Linked DNA regions of Homo sapiens. The protein of the gene in region 2 purifies or fractionates together with the protein of the main gene of each other region. This does not show direct contact. Each region holds a gene or a part of one and is shown on either strand. Other genes may lie near its edges.

Region 1 (6,852 bases), on a different chromosome or scaffold from region 2:
CCTCACTTTCCTTCCTTATAAATGGGGGAGTTGAACAGGCCTCTAAAGCCCATAGGAATCTGAGATGATAACTTCTGAGACACTCATTTCAGAAGAACCTCATGTACTGTGGCCTCTGTCTCCTGCGTTGATGTTTTTTCAGTTCACCTTTGTCTGTGTTCAGCATAAGACACAAGCTCCAGAAGGGCAGGCACTTTGTCTCATTCACTGATGTATCCCAGTGCTAACAACAGGGCCTGGGAATAATCACAGCTGCCACATACACATACTCTTTAATATGTCTCCATAACAGAAAATTTCTTCTTTAAAAATAATCACATTCAAAAATGTACATCCATTTTAATGTAGAATAATATTTTGAAAAGTTAGCAGGAATCAATTTCAATACGATTATTGAAAAATTCCTTAATTATTAATAGGAACAAGTGTTCAACTAAGTCACTGGTAGAGCAATATCCAAAATCCTTCATTATTTTTTTTTCATGGCTCTATTTTGGAAGAAACACAACTCAAAAAATAATAAGCCATTATATTATGGTCTACTCCAATGTGAAATAAGTGCATGACATTTGGCAATAAATCTAGCACCTTTGGATCTTAATACTGCATCAACAGTCAGACCCAAAGCTTCTTAGAGCAAAGCAGCAAATCTTTTATTTACACAGCTGTTTGGCTCCAGGGAAATATAAGGTAAGAAAGTAAAGCACTAGTACCATTTTACTAACTATTACAAACATACTCGTCATCTGTTACACACAGATGGCTGTGGTTCACGTGTACACTCTCTGGCTACTGGACCAGCCAAAACGCAAAGCACAGACAATGAAGACAGTGACCTGTACATGTTCAAAAGGACACAAAATATATACCTATATATACCTATAATTCTCTCTCCTTTTTTCTTTTTTTTTTTTTTTTTTTGAGATGGAGTCTTGCTCTGTCACCCAGGCTAGAGTGCAGTGGCTCGATCTCGGCTCACCACAACCTCCGCCTCGCTGGCTCAAGCAATTTTCATATCAGCCTCCCGAATAGCTGGGACTACAGGCGCACCCCACCACACCTGGCTAATTTTTGTATTTTTAGTAGAGACAGGGTTTTGCCATGTTGGCCAGGCTGGTCTCAAACTCCTGACCTCAAGTGATCCACCCGCCTTGGCCTCCCAAAGTGATGGAATTACAGGCTTGAGCCACTGCGCCCAGCCTCTCCTTTTTCATATACAGCTTAAAATAATTCTGAAATCTCCACTAAGGGCAGATTATTTTATAGATGTAGAAAAACAAAGCAAGCTTTTCTGCTGGATACATATAACCTAGATGTTCTACAACATTCCTTTTATTTTCTTAAATTAAACCAACCCTTCCAAATACCACAGATTAGATTCAAAAGCAAAAATCCCCTCCCTTAACTTCAAGTAACTTTCCTAAACGTTTCAATGAATTTGACTATTGTTCCCAAAAAGCACCATAATCAGCTTGTAAGAACTATGTATACATATAAGAATGGGTAGAAATAAAACCCCAGTTCTCTTCCATATTCCCCATCTAGACACCAGAAAGAATTATGATAAATCCAACAGATGGGTGAGCAAAAAAGTAGTTGATGCTTCTCAGCCAGCAATGCTAAAAACCAACCAACTCGGCTAGACACAGGAAGTGTCCCACTTTAAACACCACAAAAATTTCTGTGGATTTCTTTAATTGTAAAGTTGATAAAATACAAAAATAGCTTGCATTATTTTAGGATAATTCAAATGCAAGAATCATGAACTTCCAGTCTGGGCCCTAGAAATTGGGTTTACATAAATGTGAAATTACATGCTTCTGTGCCTGTTCCTTATAAACTGTTAAGACTGGAATTGAAAACTGATACATATAAGACACGGTTATTTTAAATACATTTGACACCTCCAAAAAGGAAAGAGCTAAAACTGGCTGGAAGGATTTTAAAATTTCCAACCACTTTTAATTTAAATCAATTTCTTGAACGAAGGTAAGGCACAGAAATGTAGGATGAAAATAATTTACCTTATGTAAGTATAAAGCCTCCCTTTGGCAAAGAAAAGAGAGTTTATAAAGATATCTCATATAAGTGCATATAACATCAAAAAGGAAAGACCCACACAACACCCACTTCTTGCTTTCTTTTCCTATTGGCTAACTTCTTGTTTCGTTTGTTGTAATCTGATCACAGGGAGCAATGCAACACTACAATATATCTAGGCTTTAGAAATAATACAAATCAGAACATTTGAGTGCTGTTGGACAGTTTCAAGTTGCAAGAATTTTAAACAAATGCCAAGAAAAGCAATGAAAATTTAATCTGATACTTAAGTGCTGATTCTGGAAGTAACCTTGAGAAGAAGCTTTAAACTATTTCACTATAAAATTTCTAATGAAAGTTTCAACGTGGACAAAAACGTAAAATAACCCATAACACTCTACTTAATACATAAGTTCTGGTTTAAAAATTAACCTATGTACTTACGAAGTGAACGTAACACCACTTTGGTAATTATTTTGTAAAACAGAAATTGTTCCTTAAGAATGTTCAGAAACACAACGTCTAGAATTGCTGAAAATCCACACAAAGATAGAGGCTTTGTCATTTGGATGAAGGGGAAAGAACTATGGGAGGCAGACAGAAAATAAAGCTTTGTTTACCCTAATCAGGTAGAAACAAACAAAATAATTGTAATTGGGTGCAGACAAGCAAAAAAAAAAAAAAAAAAAAAACCTCAACAATCTCAACTCCTCTGCTTCTCAGGTAACAGAGGTAAAACCACCAGGACATGACAATGTCTACGCCTCTTTAAAATGGGTAAAAGGTTTACCAGCAGATACAAGGTTGAAAGCGACTCACTTAGTGGCCAAATTGAACACGCTGAGAACACTGCCTTTACCTATAATAACTGATCTATTAACTTGGGAATCTACACTATTTTCACATGCAAAGGCGAAGTCCTCGCACTGCTGGAGAGATGAGCGAACGCCCTTCACACATCGCATTTCACCTGGTGCAGAGCCCCCAGCACAGTCCCCCTTGGAAGGGAGATCCCGAGAAATCCCGGGTTTCCAAACAGCCCCTCTGGGCAGGAAAAGACGAGAAAGCCGGCAGCGAATCCCATTAGCTCCGCGCTTGCCGAGGTGCTCGGCAAAGGTACGGGGCACACAACTCGCCCACCCCGGCGAAGAAAGTTGCTCGCGAGCCCAAGCCTAGCAGCGCTCGCCACAAACTTTCCCGCGGCAGCGCGAGCGCCGTCACTTACCGGCTGCAGAAGTCATGATTCCCCGGTGCAGCTCGCTTCCCCGCTCGGCCCCTCAATCCATCTTCCCCTTTCAGTCCATTGTTCCCACAGTTCGGGTAGGAGAGAAAAGCCCCCGCAGCGCCCACATTCCGTCCCGCCGCCCCGCGGCGCAGCCTGAGCGCCACACAAAGGACGCGGCCGACTCTAGCGACCCTGCGGCGCTCCCGGGCGCGAGCCGCCGGGGTCGGGCGGGCGAGCACTAGCACCGCCCCGCAGAGCGGCAGGCTGACAGCCAGGCGCGGGCACGAGCAGTGCTCTCTTCGGCTCCGCTGGCGCGTGCCCTTCTCGGGCTCCAAAAATCAGCAGTGCTCCGGGCGCCCCCTGCTAGTCGCGGCCGTAAAAGGCAGACAAAAGCCCTAGCCTCCTCCAATCGGAGGGCTCGAGCTTCAGCTCGCTCCCGCCTCTCTCGCTTACACGCTCACTCTCTTCTCCAATAAGCGGGCTCGAAAAGGGGGCGTGAGCGGCGAGGCATATTGGGAATTGTAGTTTTCTGGACCCACGGGACGGGCAGGAGCTGGAGCTCCGTGCCGCCTGTACTCCCGCCTTCATTTCCCATCGTGCTGAGGCGGGTGGCATGGCGGAGAAGGATGACACCGGAGTTTGACGAAGAGGTGGTTTTTGAGGTAAGAGGAAAATGGCGGTGGGTGTGGATTGCCTTTGTTTGAGAAGGACGAGACGGAAATCGAGGAAGCAAGGCGTTCCCGGGGCGAGGGATCGGGTGACGCGCTCCAGCTGGCCTCGACCACCGAACCCCAGCGATTTCAGGGCCTAGAGTCCGTCGTCGCCTGACAGGTGTAGCCAGAGGCGCCCTGGCCGTGGCCGGCCTCTATCTCGGGCCCGCCCAGAATTCCCAGACGGTGCCCGGTTGCCAGGCTCTGGGCTGGAGCGGTGTCTCTTCCTTCCTGGGAATGGATGTGCGGCGGGGGGGACTGCGCCCGGCTGGGGCGGGGCCGAATCGTGCCTTTTAGATAGTCACAACTTAGCCTCCTCCTTTTCCATCCGCGATTTTTTTGGGTCAGTATCCAGAGTGCTTCAGGTCACTGTTCACCGTCAAGGCGTGGCCCTCGGAATGAAGGCAGCAGGTGCCCGTTTTCTAACACGGTTTAAAGTCTATTTGTGGGACCTACTGTGGGTAGTTAGGGCCAGGGCATCTCAGCATCTAGATTCGATTCTTTTGTCCTTTGCTGTTGCGCTAGGTGTAGCCAGTTCTTCTGACTCGGGGCTCTAGATGTGAGTGCTTTTGTGTGGGACTATTTTAAGACGTTCTCTGCCATCTTGAATGAAAAAAATCGGGCGAGTGTTTTTGATGCCATTTTTTTCCATCAGACACAGGTCAAAACTCGCACCCCTGTACGTATGTGTATTGCATGTATACGCTTTACTTTCATTTATCCAACTAGATTTTAAGAAAATTTAAAAATGAAGTGGCCCATGCCATACAGCGAGAGAGCGAGGCACAGACAGGACAGAATGCTAAATGTTGAAATATGTACAAACTGTCATTGAAGGATTAATTTCTGTTCTTGCGGCCTCCCAGAGGCTACACCCAGTACGCGATATCCGAGGTGAATCTTTAACTATGAATTGGATTAGAAAAACCGGCAGGAGAAAATGTATTACAGGGAAAGAGAACTGATTATGCCAAGCTTGGGAAGTGTGAAAGTACCTGGTGTGCATTTTTAGGGGGCGGGGTGTGGAGGGTGGCTATGTAAAGTGGCTTGATGTGGCTGCAATGAAGAAGCAGTGGAAAATGTGGCCATTTTACCGAAGTGAAGAGTCTAGATATGAGGCGTTCATTAGGGAAGACAAGGGCCTGAGATGAAATGAGAGACGTAATGGAATAATGGCTTGGACAGACACTTGTAAGTTAAAATCGAGGCAATGTTTATAGATTGAATGTGGTAGCTGAAGGAGAGAGAAATATTTTCTAGAGTAAGGGTAACTGATGGGTGTATTTTTTTTACCCATTATTTTTGATTTCTGAATATAATAGTAATATATGCTCAAGGAACATTTTATTGTAGAAAATAAGCCCCCAAGTTAAAATCATCCATTATCCCACCACCCAAAGATGGTAACTATTAACAGTACGGTATGTGTTCTTATAGACTTTATTTCTATGTAAATGTGTGTTTATGTGTGTGTAATTTTTTAGCCTCTATATTAAGACACAATGTGTGTGTGATATTTTTTAAAACAAAAGGTATACCACGTAGAATTTTGTATATATTTTTCACTTGACTTTATCGTGAATCTTTTCCCATTCATCATTCTCTGAAAACATTAATATTATAATATCCCCTCACGTGTATCATAATATAACCTTTTTTTAAAAAAATACCATTGTAATCAACAGTGATATAAGCCTATTTTTAACTACAACTCTGATTTTCCTCAGAATAATTTTTAGAAGTAGAACTAGTGGGTGAAAGAATATGAACATTTAAGACTTACGCAGAAAGGTTATACCAATTCCGGTTTCCATTAAGAATAAGAGAGTATTGGTTTCACCAAATCCTCAACAACAGCCTTAACAGTTTCCTTTAATCTTTGCTAATTTGATAGGCAAAAATAACATTCCATTGTTTTAATTTACATTTTATGCATTTATACATTTATTAGCTATTTTTATTTCTTTGAACATTTCTCTTCATATTTGTTGCTCATTTTCTTATTAGATGCTAGCTTTAAAAAAATTGACTTGCGTGAGTTCTTCATATATTACTAAGCCTTTGTCATACTTGCAGAAAAATTTCCAGTTTGCTGTTTGTTTGCTCTTTGATATACACAATTTTTATTGCAGTATAATTTACATAAGGACAGGGCACAGATCACAAGTGTGTGGATGGTTATATTTTCACATGTTGAGCACACCCATGTAACCAGCACCCAGATCAAGAAACGGGACAGATGGGGCATGGTGGCTCACACCTGTAATCTCAGCACTTTGGGAGGCTGAGGCAGATGGATCCCTTGAACCCAGGAGTTTGAGATTAGCCTGGACAACATGGTGAAACCCTATCTCTACAAAAAAGACAAAAATTATTTGGGCGTGGTGGCACATGCCTATAGTCCCAGCTACTCGGGAGGCTGAGGTGGGAGAATCACTTGAGCCTGGGTAGGTCAAGGCTGCAGTGAGCCATGATCGCACCGCTGTACTCCAGCCTGGATGACAGAGCCAGACTCTGCCCCAAAAAAATAAAAAATGAAAAAAGAAACAACATCACCAGCACACCAGAAGCTCCCTCCTGGTCCTTTCCATCACTACTCCCTACCCCAAAATGATCACTATTTAAACATAATAACCTAGATTAATTTTGTCTATTTTTATTGTTTAGACACTGTGCATTTCCATTTATATACTCTCTTATTTCTGACTTTTTTTTTTCCTCTCTGGCTTTATTTGTGAGATTCGTCCATATTGTTAACATGAGAATTTTTATTTTGGCATAGTATTCCATGTGAATATATGATCATTTTTAAATTCATTCTTCTATTAATGGTCATTGAGTAGTTCCCAGGTTTAAACTAGTGCTACTGTGAACCTT
Region 2 (7,105 bases):
CCCTATCTCTACTAAAAATACAAAAATTAGCTGAAGTGGCGGGTGCCTGTAATTCCAGCTACTGGGGAGGCTGAGGCACGAGAATCACTTGAACCCAGGAGGCGGAGGTTACAGTGAGCCGAGATCGCACCACTGCACTCCAGCCTGGGTGACAGAGTGAGACTCCATCTCAAAACAAAACAAACAAAAAAACCTGACTTTGAGCAGGTTATAGCTCTTCTGTGGGCCTTAGTTTCCTCATCTGTAAAATGAGTACAATTTTTAGCAGCTGTGTTTCCTGCCCCATGGGGTTATGTTGAGGATCAATTCAGACAACATATAAAAAGTCTAAGATTTAAAAAAATGATAAAATACCATGTATTTGAGGGTTTGACAAGGACAAAATAGGCACTCAATAAATACTGATGGCTGTTCCCCTAAGAACATGGGGTTCCCAACCAAAAGCTACCCTTCCTCCCCCCTACCTTTGTCACAGAACTTGCCTGCCCAGCCACTGTGGCAGATGCACTGCCATGGCTGGTGGCAGGTACCGTGCTGGCAGCCAGGCATCCTCACACAGCGCTCACAGTGCAGCCCCTCCCAGCCCGGGTCACACCTGACGGGGAGAAGCACAGGGTCAGGGCTCTGGGTCATGGATGTGAAGAAATGGAGGAGACAGAACCAGAGCTTCTAGAAACCAAGAGGACATATGACAGCCCCTAAGGGAAAGCAGACCTGTCCCAGGTAGGTGTAGGACTGTGCAGGGTCATAGGACACATATACGGAATCAGACCATCAGACACCAGCACTCAAACCCTGGTTCTGTACTTTAACCTGAGCCTCAGTTTTCTCACCTGTAAATTGGGGATACACCTTGCAGGGTTGAGTAGAGGAAGAAATAAGATGTCTGTAAATGCCTCCAGTACCCCTCCTGGCATGTCTGAGGTGCTCACAAACATTTAAAGAAGAATGACCTTGAAAGGCCATCAGGGCCGGGGCGTGGTTGCTCACGCCTGTAATCCCAGCACTTTGGGAGGTCGAGGCAGGTGGATCACTTGAGGTCAGGAGTTCAAGACCAGCCTGGCCAACTGGGTGAAACCCCGTCTCTACAAAAAATACAAAAAATTACCCGGGCATGGTGGTGTGCATCTGTAATCCATTATTGAGGAGGCTGAGGCAGGGGAACTTGAACACAAGAGGCAGAGGCTGCAGTGAGCTGAGATCGCGCCACTGCACTCCAGCCTTGGCAACAAAGCGAGACTCTGTCTCAAAAACAAAAAATAAAAATAAAAACAAAAAAGGTCATCAGGACTATCCTCCCACCATGATTCCAGGGCAAACACTTGACCCATATTTTAAAAGCCCTCCAGGGGTGAAGAGTCTCAAAGACCCCCAGCCAATTGAACTACCTGCCTCATCAACTCATTTCCTTATGTCCACTTTCCTCCTGCTACAGAATTTGCCCAATCTCCCAGTGAGTCAACTACTCAAACTCATCAAGAAAGATCCTCTTTCATTGTAAGTGTTTCTCCCCAGCAACTCTCCCTGCAGCATTTCTTTTCCAGGCTAAACCATTTCTCTTTCCCTTTTTCCTTTATCTTTCCATTTCCTCATGGCACCCAATCCCCAAGCTCTCTCAAGCTTTAGGTCTCTCTCCCTGTCAGGAGTTCAGACAATCCCTGGATCAGACTTGGGAGATTAAAGAAGTGGGGAGATAAAAACTAGAAGAAGCAAGAGAGGTGAGGTAAAGGGGAAAGGGGGACTGGCCAGTCAGCCATAGGAGTGATGAGGCATGAAGAGTAGAGTCTGAAGCCCCTAGACACTGTTGTGCACGTGAAGGGCTTAGAAATGGGTACCAAAGGGTTTGGGGGCACGTGCTCAGGACAGGTACCTGCAGGAGCCGTCAGGTGCACAGCAGCCGTGGGCCAGGTCACAGTGGGAGCTGCAGTCATCGGCTGCAAGAGATTGATGTGGGAGGGGTGAGTCTGAGTCAGGGCACAGCTCGCTGGGATGCGGGACTCAGGAGAGGATTGGGGTTCCAGTAACTGAGCGGACTCAACCCTAGGGCAGGACATAACACAGAAACTCATCCCATTCCAAAAAGGCAACCTCGGTCTTGCTTGCCCCGCGGGTCGGAGCGACTGCAGTGCCGCCTCCGGCCGGCAGAGGTCAACGTGCAAGCGAGGACGGCTGGACAGGGCCGCGACTGGAGCCCAGCGGGCGCGCTCACCTCGGACAGGCTGACCGGGAGCCCCCAGAATGCACAACAGGCACACGAGATGCAGGCAGCGGCAGCCGCTGGGCATGGTCAGCGCCGGCCCCAGGAGGGACGGACGGATGGACGGCCGGACGCGTGGACACCTGTGGGACGGCACCGGTTGGGAGGCGGCCGGACGCGGAGATAGCGGCACGGATACGGGTTCCAAGTGACAGGAGCCGACGAGGGAGAGGGGCGCCGGGACAGAAGAAGGGGATGGGGGTAGCGGGAGGATGGGGGCAGGGAAGGGTTGAGCAGGCGAAGAGAGCGAGGAGAGCGAAGACAGGAACCCGGGAGCGGGGTCTGCAAGGAGGGGAAAGATGGGCATCGCGGAGCGAGGCCAGGCGCGGGAATGGCTGGGGTTGGGATCGTAGTCAGGACGGAGGGGTCCGCGGGATGGGGACAGCGCCGAGAGGCGGCCTCGAGCACGGAGGGGACGCGGGGGCCGGAGGGAAGGACGGTTCCCGGCAGCGAGCAGTCTCCGCCCCACAGCTCCGACAGCCCCCCCCCCCGCCACCACCACTCTCTCCCACGTCCCCTTTCTATCTCCGCCGCGCTGGGTTCGGCGGCGGCGCGGGGCCTGGAATCCCCACCGCGCCCTGTCCCCGCAGTCCTCACCTCCGGCGGGGAGGTGGCGCGCCCCGGGGCGCAGAGAGAGGCCGGATCCGACGGGCGCCGCCGAGGGGCCGTGAGGGAGCGCGGGGCCGCCCCTAGCTGGCCGCGGGGCCGGGCGCCGAAGCGGCTGCCATGCGAGCCGAGCGCTCGGGAATCTGGGGCTCCAGGCGACCCCGAGCGGCGGCAGCGGCTGCTCCTCGCGCGCGCTCAGGCCCCCTGCCAGGGGCGGAGCCCGCCCCCACCCCCATCCCCCCCCCCGCGACGCACGGCGCACACCTAGCACCCGGCGCGCCCCGGGGCCCCGGCCCTCCGCGGCTACCCAACGCCCCGAACCCAGCTTCCTTCCAAGAGAGGAGGAAATCTTAGGAGTCTCAATGGGAGCAAACTATTAAGCCAAAGGAGCGCAACCCCGTTATTCTCTCATCTCCCATGCCCACTTTCCCGACCAGCGCTCCGCGGCCCACGCCCCAGCCCTGCCTTCGCTTGTCCGCCGCTCATCACGCTTCTCATATAGATCTATGCACACGCAGGCAATCGCTCCCCGCCCTCCGCCTGTCACCAGCCCACGCCTCCCCGCTTGTAAAGCCTTCATCACCTGCTTCATCTGTGTGCTCCTCTGCTCCTCCTCGCCCTCCGCTTCTTCCTGTCCACGTTGCCGTCTCCAGCCTTCCAAGATCAACCTATCCCTATATAAATATCAACCCGATCCACCCAACCACACCCCGGCCCTACCCCCACCACCCTTCCCTCCCTCAAGTCTCAGCCCTTCCACCCCATTCCTTTTTGTGACTGCCTCTGAGAATCCTTTCTGGACTGGGAATGCCCCTGACTCTGTAAATGTGCACACAAAACCCCCTCCACCGCCAAGTCTTCTCCTGTACCCCATCACGTTCGTCCTTGGCCTCAGGCTAAACCTCAACTGCCCAAACCTGGAGCTCAGATTCAGAGAGTAACGGAGGGGGAGTGGGGGAAAGCTGCCCTCCAGGCCTCTTTGCCCCCTTCTGGCTAATGGCTCAGAGACACATTTCAAGACAAGGACCCAGCCAAGCTCGGTGGGCTCACGCCTATAATTCCAGCACTTTGGGAGGCTGAGGCGGGCGGATCACCTGAGGTCAGGAGTTCGAGACCAGCCTGGCCAACATGGTGAAACCCGTCTCTATTAAAAATACAGAAATTAGCCAGGCGTGGTGGTGCGCGCCTGTAATCCCAGCTACTCGGAAGGCTGAGGCAGGAAAATCGCTTGAAAACCCGGGAGGCAGACGTTGCAGTTAGCCAAGATCGCGCCACTGCACTCCAGCTTGGGGGACAGAGCAAAACTCCGACCCCCGCCCCCCCCCAAAAAAAGACAAGGACCCAGAACATAATTTCTAGTTTGTGCAGGACAACAGGGCAGAGGTCAGGAACGCTAGCGCCCATCTCTAGTCCTTCAGATTGAGATTTCACCATCTTTAAATTCAAAACATCGGAAGGAGCAGTCGCTAGTCGGGGCAGAGCAGCTTCCCACCTTCACACAGCCACCTCCACAGGCACAGAGCCCCAGGGCTCATTTTTCCTGCAGTCTCCATTGGATATAACACTTACACCCACTCAGCTCCCTAGCTGGCCTCCTCTCAGCTGTGATCGCCTCTTCCCTGAAGAGCTCTCTGAATTTGAGTAATGACATGGCTGTACCATTCATTTTGTTTAAACACATTTTTTTTTTTGGTGAAAAATTGCAAACAACCTATAATTCAAAAATTACTGTAGGCAAATAAATTATGGCACATCAACACTATGTGACTGTTAAAAATACTTTTTTTTTTTTTTGACGTCTAAAGATGTCCAAAAAAGCTAAGAATATGTAAAGTGCGGTGGGGGGAAGCCGGAAACAAAGAAGAACGTACTTTGACATTGGCAGTGCTTTTCTCTGGATGATCGAATTATAGAGGTTTTTTTTTTTTTCTTATTAATACTTTTCAGCATTAACACTTTTTTTTTTTTTTTTTTTTTTTTTTTTGAGACGGAGTCTCGCTTTGTGGCCCAAGCTGGAGTGCAGTGGCGCTATCTCGGCTCTCTGCAAGCTCCGCCTCCCAGGTTCACGCCATTCTCCTGCCTCAACGTCCCAAGTAGCTGGGACTACAGGCGCCCACCACCCCGCCCGGCTAATTTTTTTTTGTATTTTTAGTAAAGACGGGGTTTCACCATGGTAGCCAGGATGGTCTTGATTTCCTGACCTCGTGATCCGCCCGCCTCGACCTCCCAAAGTGCTGGGATTACAGGCGTGAGCCACCGCGCCCGCCCCTTTTTTTTTTTTTTTAAACAATGAACATCTATAACTTGTTTTTTGTTGTTGTTTGTTTGTTTTTCCTTGAGATTATCACTCTGTCGCCCAGGCTGGAGTGCAGTAGTGCAACCTCAGCTCAGTACAACCTCGTCTCAGCCTCCAGTATAGCTGGAATTGCAGGCACAGCGCCACCACGCCCAGCTAATTTTTTTTTCTCGAGACTTTCAGTGCTTTTCTCTGTCAGATATCATTATCTGACATTATATTAAATATTTATTGTTTATTGACCATCTCCCCACTACAAAGCAAACTCCAGAGGTCTGGGATGTTTTCTTGCTCATCACAGCATCCCCAGTGTCTAAAACAATGCCTGGCATAGTAGGTATTCAATAAATTTTTTTAAAATTCTGTTTGTTTAATTAACTCTTTTTTTTTTTTTTTTTTTTTGAGACAGGGTCTCGCTCTGTCACCCAGGCTGAAGTGCAATGGCTCCATCTTGGCTCACTGCAACCTCCGCCTCCCGGGTTCAAGCAATTCTTCTGCCTCAGCCTCCCGAGTAGCTGGGATTACAGGCGCGCCCCCACCAAGCCAGGCTAATTTTTGTATTTGTAGTGGAGACAGGGTTTCGCCATGTTGGCCAGGCTGGTTTACAACTCCTGACCTCAGGTCATCTGCCCGCTTGGCCTCCCAAAGTGCTGGGATCACAGGCGTGAGCCACTGCCCTCGGCCTGCCCAGTTAATTTTTGCATTTTCAGTAGAGACGGGGTTTCGCCATGTTGGCCCGGCTAGTCTCGAAGTGACCCCAAGTGGTCCACCGGCCTTGGCCTCCCAAAGTGCTAGGGTTACAGGCATGAGTCACCGTGCCCAGCCTAACATTTTTTTAGAATAAAGTAAAAAGAAAAAGGCCAGGTGCGGTGGCTCACGCCTGTAATCCCAACACTTTGGGAGGCTGAGGTGAGAGGATCATGAGGTCAGGAGATCGAGACCATCCTGGCTAACACGGTGAAGCCCCGTCTCTACTAAAAATACAAAAAATTAGCTGGGTGTGGTGGCAGGCGCCTGTAGTCCCAGCTACTCGGGAGGCTGAGGCAGGAGAATGGCATGAACCCAGGGGGCGGAGCTTGCAGTGAGCCGAGATAGCACCACTGCACTCCAGCCTGGGTGACAGAGCGAGACTCCGTCTCAAAAAAAAAAAAAAAAAGAAAGCAAACTGGCTGGGCGCGGTGGCTCACGCCTGTAAATCCAGCACTTTGGGAGGCCAAGGCAGGCAGATCACCTGAGGTCAGGAGTTCGAGACCAGCCTCACCACCATGGAGAAAACCTGTCTCTACTAAAAATACAAAATTAGCCGGGCGTGGTGGCACCTGCCTTTAATCCCAGCTACTTGAGAGGCTGAGGCAGGAGAATCGCTTGCACCTGGGAGGCAGAGGTTGCGGTGAGCCTAGATCATGCCACTGCACTCTAGCCTGGGCAACAAGAGCAAGACTCCATCTCAAAGAAAAGGAAAGGAAAAAAACCACCCACAATCCTACTAGCTTGAGAAAACCACAATTATTGTTGTTTTGATTCCTTTTTTCCATTCAGATATTTTTACAGAGGTATAATCATAATGTACCTACAGTATTGTATCCTGCTTTTTTTTACTCCATGTCATATATTGATAGTTCTCAAAAGCATTTTTTATGGCTATGTGATATTCCATTAAATAGATATACTATATTTACTTTACTTAGCCCTAGTTATTGGCTGCTTAGGTTGTTTACTTTTTTTGTCATTATAAATTCATTCAACAAATATTGAGTAGTCATATATTACCATTAGATACCAGAGCCACTGAGGATACAGCTCCCAGATAATATTTATTAGTGCCACACATTTTTATGAAGGTAGGTTTTTTCCCCATGTTTTAGGCTCCTTCCTTATGATCAAGTCTGAATTGATGAGTGACTGAGTCAAAGAAGTCATGAAAAATAAATTCTTTTTAACTGATA
Region 3 (7,659 bases), on a different chromosome or scaffold from region 2:
CTCTAAAACCGGAGTTACACATTACTTTTTTGATTTTCCAGTGTACAGAGTAGAAAGTAAGTTTTCAATGAAGGAATAAATACATTTGAAGACAGATAAAACATCTTTTCTCAAACTGTTGAAATCAGTGGCATTCACTCAACAATAAAGACATATAAGCATGTGTTATGTGACACATACTATATTAGGTACTAAAATGAAAAGTTATTAAAATGGAAGACAATGACAAGAACAATTCCATTAGTTTTCTGTTGTCATTCAAGGTTGTATCTATATGGTTTTTAATATCCAGATTAAAGTTTTAGAAATTAATTAACAGCTTCGATTTTCAAGCCCATTTAGACAAGTGCTATCACTTAAGTGAAATCTTAGTTAACTAAGTTTTTCAGGATTCATTTGGATGACAAAGCATTCAAATGATGCACCCAAAACTAAATATGTGAGTATTTAGAAATATATTCCACTGAAAGCTTTTGCTTTTGTTCTAAATGTTTGGCATCTAGTAGGTAGTCTATAAGAGTCTTTAAAATCAGTGTGTTCATATCTACATGTTTGGGGGAAATAAAGCAAACAGCAACATGAAGGTGCTCCCAAGATTCTGTTCTGAAAGTTGTCCACCAAAGGGCACCAAAGTAAAACCAGCAGATGGCTCTGAACACACAGAGAGAGAAGGGGGGAGAGAGAATGGAGGGAAGAGGGACAGAGAGAGGGAGAGAGAAATGAGGGAGAGAGGGGGAGAGAGAGAGAGAGACAGAGAGAGAGGAAGAGAGAAAGGAGGGAGAAGGAGGGAAAGAGGGGGAAAGAGGGATAGAGAGGGAGGGAGAGAGGGAAAAATAAAACAAGAGAAGACAGAGGCTAGGTGAAATAGAGAAGTTGCCAGAGGACTTCTGGGAAAAAACATTTGAAAAGGAAGGACTGAAAAGAGAAGAAATGGGCACAACGGGGACTCCGGGTCTGGCCATAACAGCCAGGAGAAACAAGGGCTTAAGCCAGGAGGTCTGAAAAGAGAACAGAAGGTAGACCACCTAGAATGGGGACAAGGCACTTCCACTCTGCAAAGGTGAGTGTGCTTGCAGTGCAAAGCAAGAAACGTGAACTTTAAAATTCTTCAGGCACATGTGTTCAAAAGGCAAAGATACATGAGAATGCAAGATGAAAAACTCCAGCGCAAGATCAGGCTTTTTAAACTGCCACAGCTCCCCTGTCTCCCCAGCTAGCTTCTATTCGCCTTCCCAGGCTCCTAAGCCCAGTGACAGGAGAGACTCTGGAATGATCAGAGATTCTGGAATGAAAAGAGCTATGCCCACTGCTTAGGAGGCCAAGGATTCTGCAAACTGATCCCCGCAGATACCACAGCGCTTTACTCTGGTCTCCAAGGCCATGGCACACCCTAAAAGATTAAAATGCCTTAAGGTAAATGACCATTCCCAGATGAAGGCACAGAATGTAAACAAAGTGTGGGCCGAGGGAAGAAACTTGAAAAATCACAATAAAGTGGCCTCCCAGAGCAGGCAACTAGCAACTTTGTAGGAAAAGGAGAGGGAAGAAGTCCTGTGTTCTGCACTGAGAGATCATTTCATGTCACGCTTCAGTGCAATTAAAATAAAAAAGGATTTACTAATTACAAAGCAATCCTAACAAGGTACATAATACAGAATATTCACATCTTATACATCTCCTAGAGAAAGATTACAAACACAGAATGTTTCACCTTCCGGAGGAGATAATTATTAACTTTTAAAGACTAGCTCAGGCAAGAATGAAAAAGTATCAAGTCAAGGCCACATACATTCTAATTTTATAACCCAGGCGGCCCTGGATGGGATTCAGAGAGCTCTTATTTGAATAAGATCTGACGATATCCTCTCATTAAAAGGATTAGTGTTTCTGCACAAACGTCTAGATAAATCTTATTACTGGTCCAAAATTAGTCACCTAAAGGCTTTAGCCAGTTTTGCACAAATATTTACAACTCTGAAGAGGCTGAGTACTTTTTCTCTTGAAATCCAGGCACTATATCCACTTCAAAAGCCACATATGATTGTGGCTTTTGCTGAGCATATTTCTTTTCGACGAGTTGAAGATGACAATCTCTCAATACCTTACTCCATAGACTGGATGTAAGCGTCAAAAGAGGATGAAAAGGTACTTTCTGAACGGACAGGTACTCTGGGGTGATGGGTTGGGAGATTCTCTAAGCCTCAAGAACAGCGTTTCATGAAACGGGCTTATAAAATACAGCCCATCTCAAACGGATTTTAAAAGGCACCCAGTTACTTTAAAATACCCAATACAAACACCAAGACGGGCTATTTTACCAGGTCCCCTGCAGAATGTGAAGGGGCTTCCAGCGCTCCAAGCCGGCTTTCTAATTTAAGCCAAGAACCGAAAAGGAGCGAAGGCGGCTTCGGGGACCCCGGCAGCGTGCAGGGCCAGGAGGTTCAGCCTGCCCACCCGGAGAGGGGTGCGCCGAGCTCCTCTGGAAATAGTGACTGAAGGGTCCCCGCGAAGTCGCCGTGCCAGCCCCTCTCCCAGTTCCAGCGGTCCCCGAAGTCCCCGGGCAGAGCCGGCTGCACAGGGACCGGACGAGGCGAGGCGCATTCCGGGGCGCAGCCCCGAGGACGAAGGTCCACGGCTTCAGCCCCAGCCCACGGCCCCGACTCCCTGACGAAGACTCGCTGGAGCGCGGCCTCAGGGCAGCTGCGCGCAGCTGGACTCGTCCCCGGGAGCCCTCGACCCTCTAGTTCCCCGCCGGCCCCAGGGCGCCCTCGCCCCGCTCCTTCCCCGCCGGCCCCAGCGTCCGGGCTGCCCCTCGCCCGCGGCCTCTCGGCGGGGCTGGAGACCTAGCAACTTACTGGGGCTGGGTTGGGGTCGCGCCAAGAAGGCGGCGGTGGGCTGCCGGCTGCAGCGCGTCGGGGGCCCGCGGCTGGGGGACGCTGGAGCAGCGGCCGCCGCCTCGCTGGTCCCGCGAAGAGGAGCGCCCGCCGGCCGCGCTGCAGAAGGAGGGCTGGGCACGTGGGCGCCCCTCTGTGTAGCCACCCGGGGCGGGGGCGGGGCGCGGGGCCGGGCGGCACCGCCTCCTCCGCGCTCCCGGAACGCGACCCCGAGCCCGCCTCCCGCCGGGCCCCGGCCGCGCTGACCAATCCCCGGGGTGGGCGGTGTGCGGCCGCTGCTCAGCGGGGTTTGCCTGGAGCCGAGCACACGTGGGCGGGCGCTAGCCCCGGGCTAGGCCGGTGGGCGCGGGCCGGGGAAGAGAGGCTGCGCGCGAGGATAAACTTCGTGCTCTCCTGGGAGGACCAAACCTCAAGGGCATTTCCGAATCTTCTAAGCAGAGTTCTAAGTGGGGTTTTGGTCCCCCCGTTTACTTTCCATTCTACAAAGATTTTGGAAATAAGAAAATAATAATAAAATATAATAATAGCAATGATAAATGGAAGCCCAGGTGGATGTGCTTTGTCAAATGCAAACTAAACGTTGATAAATAATGTGCAGTTGCTATTTTGGAAGACTCCAGTGGTATGAATACGTAGTCACGATTGTTTGGGGGTGGGTTTATAGGAAATGACATTATTTCCAGGGGAGCAAGAGCAGAAGTTACACAATCAGGGTTTCTCCTACTGCGCTATTGTTTACTTTAGGAGTCTCTGATAAGATTAAGTCACAATGTGAAAGCCTGTTAATTTTCATCCAAAACGAAGCAAAACACGCACTGAATTGAACAATAAGTGTGTGTCAGTGTGTGTGTGTATATGTGTGTGTGGTTTGTCTTTAGAGACAGGGTCTCACTCTGTCGCCCAGGCTGGAGGGCAGTGACACAATCGTGGCTCACTGCAGCCTCGACCTCCTGGGCTCAAGCTATCCTCCCGCCTCAGCCTCCCAAAGTGCTGACAACTACAGGCTTGAGCCACCAGGCTGAGAATTACAGGCTTGAGCCACCATGCCCGGCCTATTACTATTTTTGTTTGACAGAAAGGTCCACTTTACTTTGCATAGTATTGGAGTAAACGTCCCTTTAACCCACCTACTAGTAATAACTTTGGCAAAGTGCCAGATTTGTATTGCTGCCTCACAGTACATATACAATTTTAATGTGATATTCTAAATCATTCTTCCCTTCAAGACATATATCCCCAAGATCATCTAATAAACGGTGTGGGGCTTCATTCCAGAAGATAGCACACACACAAAATCTCAATGTATCTCAGGAAGCCATCCATGGATTTCATCAAAAAGTGAAAGTGTAGGCTGGGGGTGGTGGCTCACGCCTGTAATCCCAGCACTTTGGGACGCCGAGGCGCGCCGATCACCTGAGGTCAGGAGTTCGAGACCAGTCTGGCCAACAGGGTGAAACTCCGTCTCTACTAAAAATACAAAAATTAGCCGGGCGCGGCGGCGGGCGCCTGTAACCCCAGCTACTCGGGAGGTTGAGGCAGGAGAATCGCTTGAGCCCAGGAGGCGGAGGTTGCAGTGAGCCGAGATAGTGCCACTACAGTCCAGCCTGGGCGACAGAGTGAGATTCCGTCTCAAAAACAAAAGCAAACGAACAAAAAAACTGAAAGTTTAAACAGCACTATGATTACGAAGATATTATCTGATAGACCAAATGTCTTAAGTAATAGAGACTGTCAAAGTAAACTTATTTTTACAGTCAAAAAAAGATTCCTTATGCAAATTATCATTAATAACATTAAGGGAAATGATGCGTGTGGACTTTTAACACCAGATTCCTCCTCAATCCCACGGCTAGGAGGCGTTGTTCAAGGGAGCGATGACTCAGATACTTTGTCTAATTTTTAAGGGTGAGTAATCTGGTCTAACATTTTTCACCTGGTTTAAAAAAAATAGAGATTCCTGGGAGTCGCGGTGGCTCAGGGCGGTTGCCCTGGCACTCGAGGAGGCGAGGCTACACGTTCGAGGCCAACCTGGTCAACATTGATTAAAATAAAGAAAGAAAAAATAAAAAAATAGAGATTCCTATTTTTAAACTTAAGCAATTATTTCCCCACATATTTTTACTTAAAGGCTCTGTGTTTAAATCTGTTTAATTTGTGATTAAGTTACAACACAATGATTTGGGATAAACAAATTTATCTGGAATTTGGAAACTGCCAATTTTGTCAGAATACCGATCTTTGAATTTATCCAATCTGCCCGCCGGCGCACTTCCTGAAGCAAGAACGTGCTGTGTTCATGTGTGTGAATAAGAACAACAACTTCATCTCTAAGCAAAAAAAGAGCAAATTCTTTCAAACAACTTTCTAACAAGATTGCTGAATATCTTTACACACTAGTTCTTGACTTAACATATTCCATTTCGTGTTTGAAATTATTGATTAACCCTGAATCCTGCCTCATAACTTTGGTTATTTCTCACCTTTAAAAATGTGTTTAGATGAGGAAAGAATAGGATGCCCACGGATTTAGTATGAGTCTCTTAAGACAGACTATGAGACAAGAGAAAATAGAATCGAATTTTTAGAAATGAAATATTTGAAACAGGTTAAGCTCTTTTGACTTCATCTTCATTTGCATTTTCTCTTGCTGCCCGGGGTTGAATTAGCATCTTTTTCCCAGTTGAGTAAAATTTGCACCCACCTTCTATTTCACGCTCCCTGGTTTATTGCCATCACTTTTCACTTTCAGCCGTCAAGTTTCCTCCTTAGGAATGAAGCAGAAAATCCAACTTAGTCATTTTCAGCAGAGAGAGTAGCCTAGGTTGTCATCTTCCAAAGATTTCACAAACATTCTTGCATGTCTGAACTCTTAAGGGTTTATGAAATTGCGGGGAATTTTAAGGGACTTTTGTAGCTGAATAAATTCCACACCCTGTACTCCCACACTTGCCAAATACAACCTAAAGTAAATCTCATGTCCACAAATAAGGGATTTACTTCAACTAGCAAGACTGAAGGAATGGATTCTTACTAGTTCTAATTTGTGACTCTATTATTCCCCAAACTATTTTAGCGAAGACAAGCTAAAATCCTCCAATTTTTTTCAGATGGTTGGATACTGGATACTAATGCTTGTGCTGTCACTGAATCAACTCAAAAGGGAAAAAGAGTTGGACCAGAGTCAGAGCACTAGCTATTTGTTTGTTTTTTGAGACGGAGTTTCCCTCTGTCACCAGGCTGGAGTGCAAGGGCACGATCTCAGATCACAGCAACCTCTGCCTCCCGGATTCAAGCGATTCTCCTGCCTCAGCCTCCGGAGTAGCTGAGATTACAGGCGCTCACCACCACGCCTGGCTAATTTTTTTGTATTTTCAGTAGAGACGGGGTTTTACCACGTTGCCCAGGCTGGTCTCAAACTCCTGACGTCAGGTGATCCCGCCCACCTCGACCTCCCAAAGTGCTGGGATTAAAGGCGTGAGCCACCGCCCCGACCCAGAGCACTAGTTTTAAGAGCTTTCAGGCCACCGCTGTTCTCCACTCGCCTTTCAAAAATGTGTAAAAACCTAGAGGTGACTTTCCACTGGACAGAGTCCATATCTGCCCATCCCTTAAGGCAAGCAACAAAATATTGAAAAAATGGTTGGAAAAAAAATACAACAAGTCCATATAAATGACAAGTCGTCTTTCAAATTCATCTTCTTCTACTTGTCTTTCAACTAAGACCAAATCACCGTTTTGCAATGATTTTCATTCTACATTGCTCTTCCTACAAATTTCCCTGCCTCCTGTCACTTGGTGTCTTTCTGGGGTTTCTTTACATTGGCCATTCATCAGGAATGGCCCTGAGCTCCACCCGCCCCGTGCTAGTCTCTAATTCCTTCTGCCAGGATTCCTGCTGGGCCTCTTATCTGCTGGAAAAAGTCAGTTTTCTTAATCTAAACATCAGTTAGCCTGTTGCTCTAAGGACTGAAAACCAGGGATTTAGGAGGGAGCTCAGATAATCTAAATCCTCTCTTTTCTTTAACCTTGATGAGGGTCCTAATTGCTCCAGAAATCTCTTCCTAATCATATGCAATGGACCTTTCGCAGTTCTCTTGTGCCTCAAACTCGCTCCTGCTTTCTTTCTTTCTCGAAACTATCTCCTCCTTGGCTTCCACGGTCTCTTAGTTTTCCTCCTACTATCCTGAATAACCTTTTGTCTTGCTTGCTAACTAAGGCACTCTTAAGATTAAATTATTGAATCATTCTTAACTCCATCAATCTTCACAATCTAGGTTGTTATGCTTTTTTTTTTTTTTTTTTTTTTGAGACGGAGTCTCATTCTGTCACCCAGGCTGGAGTGCAGTGGTGCACTCTCAACTCACTGCAATCTCTGCCTCCTGGGTTCAAGCGATTCTCCTGTCTCAGCCTCCCGAATAGCTGGTATTACAGGCACGGGCCACCACGTCCGGCTAATTTTTTGTATTTTTAGTACAGACAGGGTTTCACCGTGTTAGCCAGGATGGTCTCGATCTCCTGACCTCGTGATCTGCCCGCCTCGGCCTCCCAAAGTGCTGGGATTACAGGCGTGAGCCTCCATACCCGGCTGAGAGAGTAATTTTTACCTCCTTTTCTACAAAAGAAAAAAATTAGAAACCACTCATCATGCTGGGGCAGAGAACGACAGAGAACGTGCCACTGCACTCCAGCCTGGGCGAAAGAGAGAGACTCCGCCTCTAAAAAAAAAAAAAGGAGGGGGTAAGGGGGTAATCCCCTTTTATCCGCG

The links.
Region 1: the proteins of DLK2 (region 2) and VEZT purify together in Homo sapiens (affinity purification with mass spectrometry; 2 studies listed by BioGRID and IntAct, with this or other methods). This does not show direct contact.
Region 3: the proteins of DLK2 (region 2) and SLC7A2 purify together in Homo sapiens (affinity purification with mass spectrometry; 2 studies listed by BioGRID and IntAct, with this or other methods). This does not show direct contact.

The regions. Positions count from the first base shown.
Region 1 is NC_000012.12:95,213,960-95,220,811, forward strand, and holds the start of VEZT (vezatin), read left to right. Parts: upstream 1-3,847; 5' UTR 3,848-3,891; coding exon 3,892-3,927; exon of another isoform or gene 3,928-4,386; intron 4,387-6,852. Other genes in the region: FGD6 (FYVE, RhoGEF and PH domain-containing protein 6), read right to left, coding at 3,266-3,281. UniProt on the Homo sapiens protein: Plays a pivotal role in the establishment of adherens junctions and their maintenance in adult life.
Region 2 is NC_000006.12:43,452,541-43,459,645, forward strand, and holds the start of DLK2 (protein delta homolog 2 isoform a precursor), read right to left. Parts: upstream 3,009-7,105; 5' UTR 2,855-3,008; exon of another isoform or gene 2,565-2,854; coding exon of another isoform or gene 2,286-2,564; coding exon 2,210-2,285; intron 2,041-2,209; exon of another isoform or gene 1,935-2,040; coding exon 1,871-1,934; exon of another isoform or gene 634-1,870; coding exon of another isoform or gene 596-633; coding exon 465-595; intron 1-464. UniProt on the Homo sapiens protein: Regulates adipogenesis.
Region 3 is NC_000008.11:17,492,434-17,500,092, reverse strand, and holds the start of SLC7A2 (cationic amino acid transporter 2), read right to left. Parts: upstream 3,006-7,659; 5' UTR 2,856-3,005; intron 1-2,855. UniProt on the Homo sapiens protein: Functions as a permease involved in the transport of the cationic amino acids (L-arginine, L-lysine, L-ornithine and L-homoarginine); the affinity for its substrates differs between isoforms created by alternative splicing.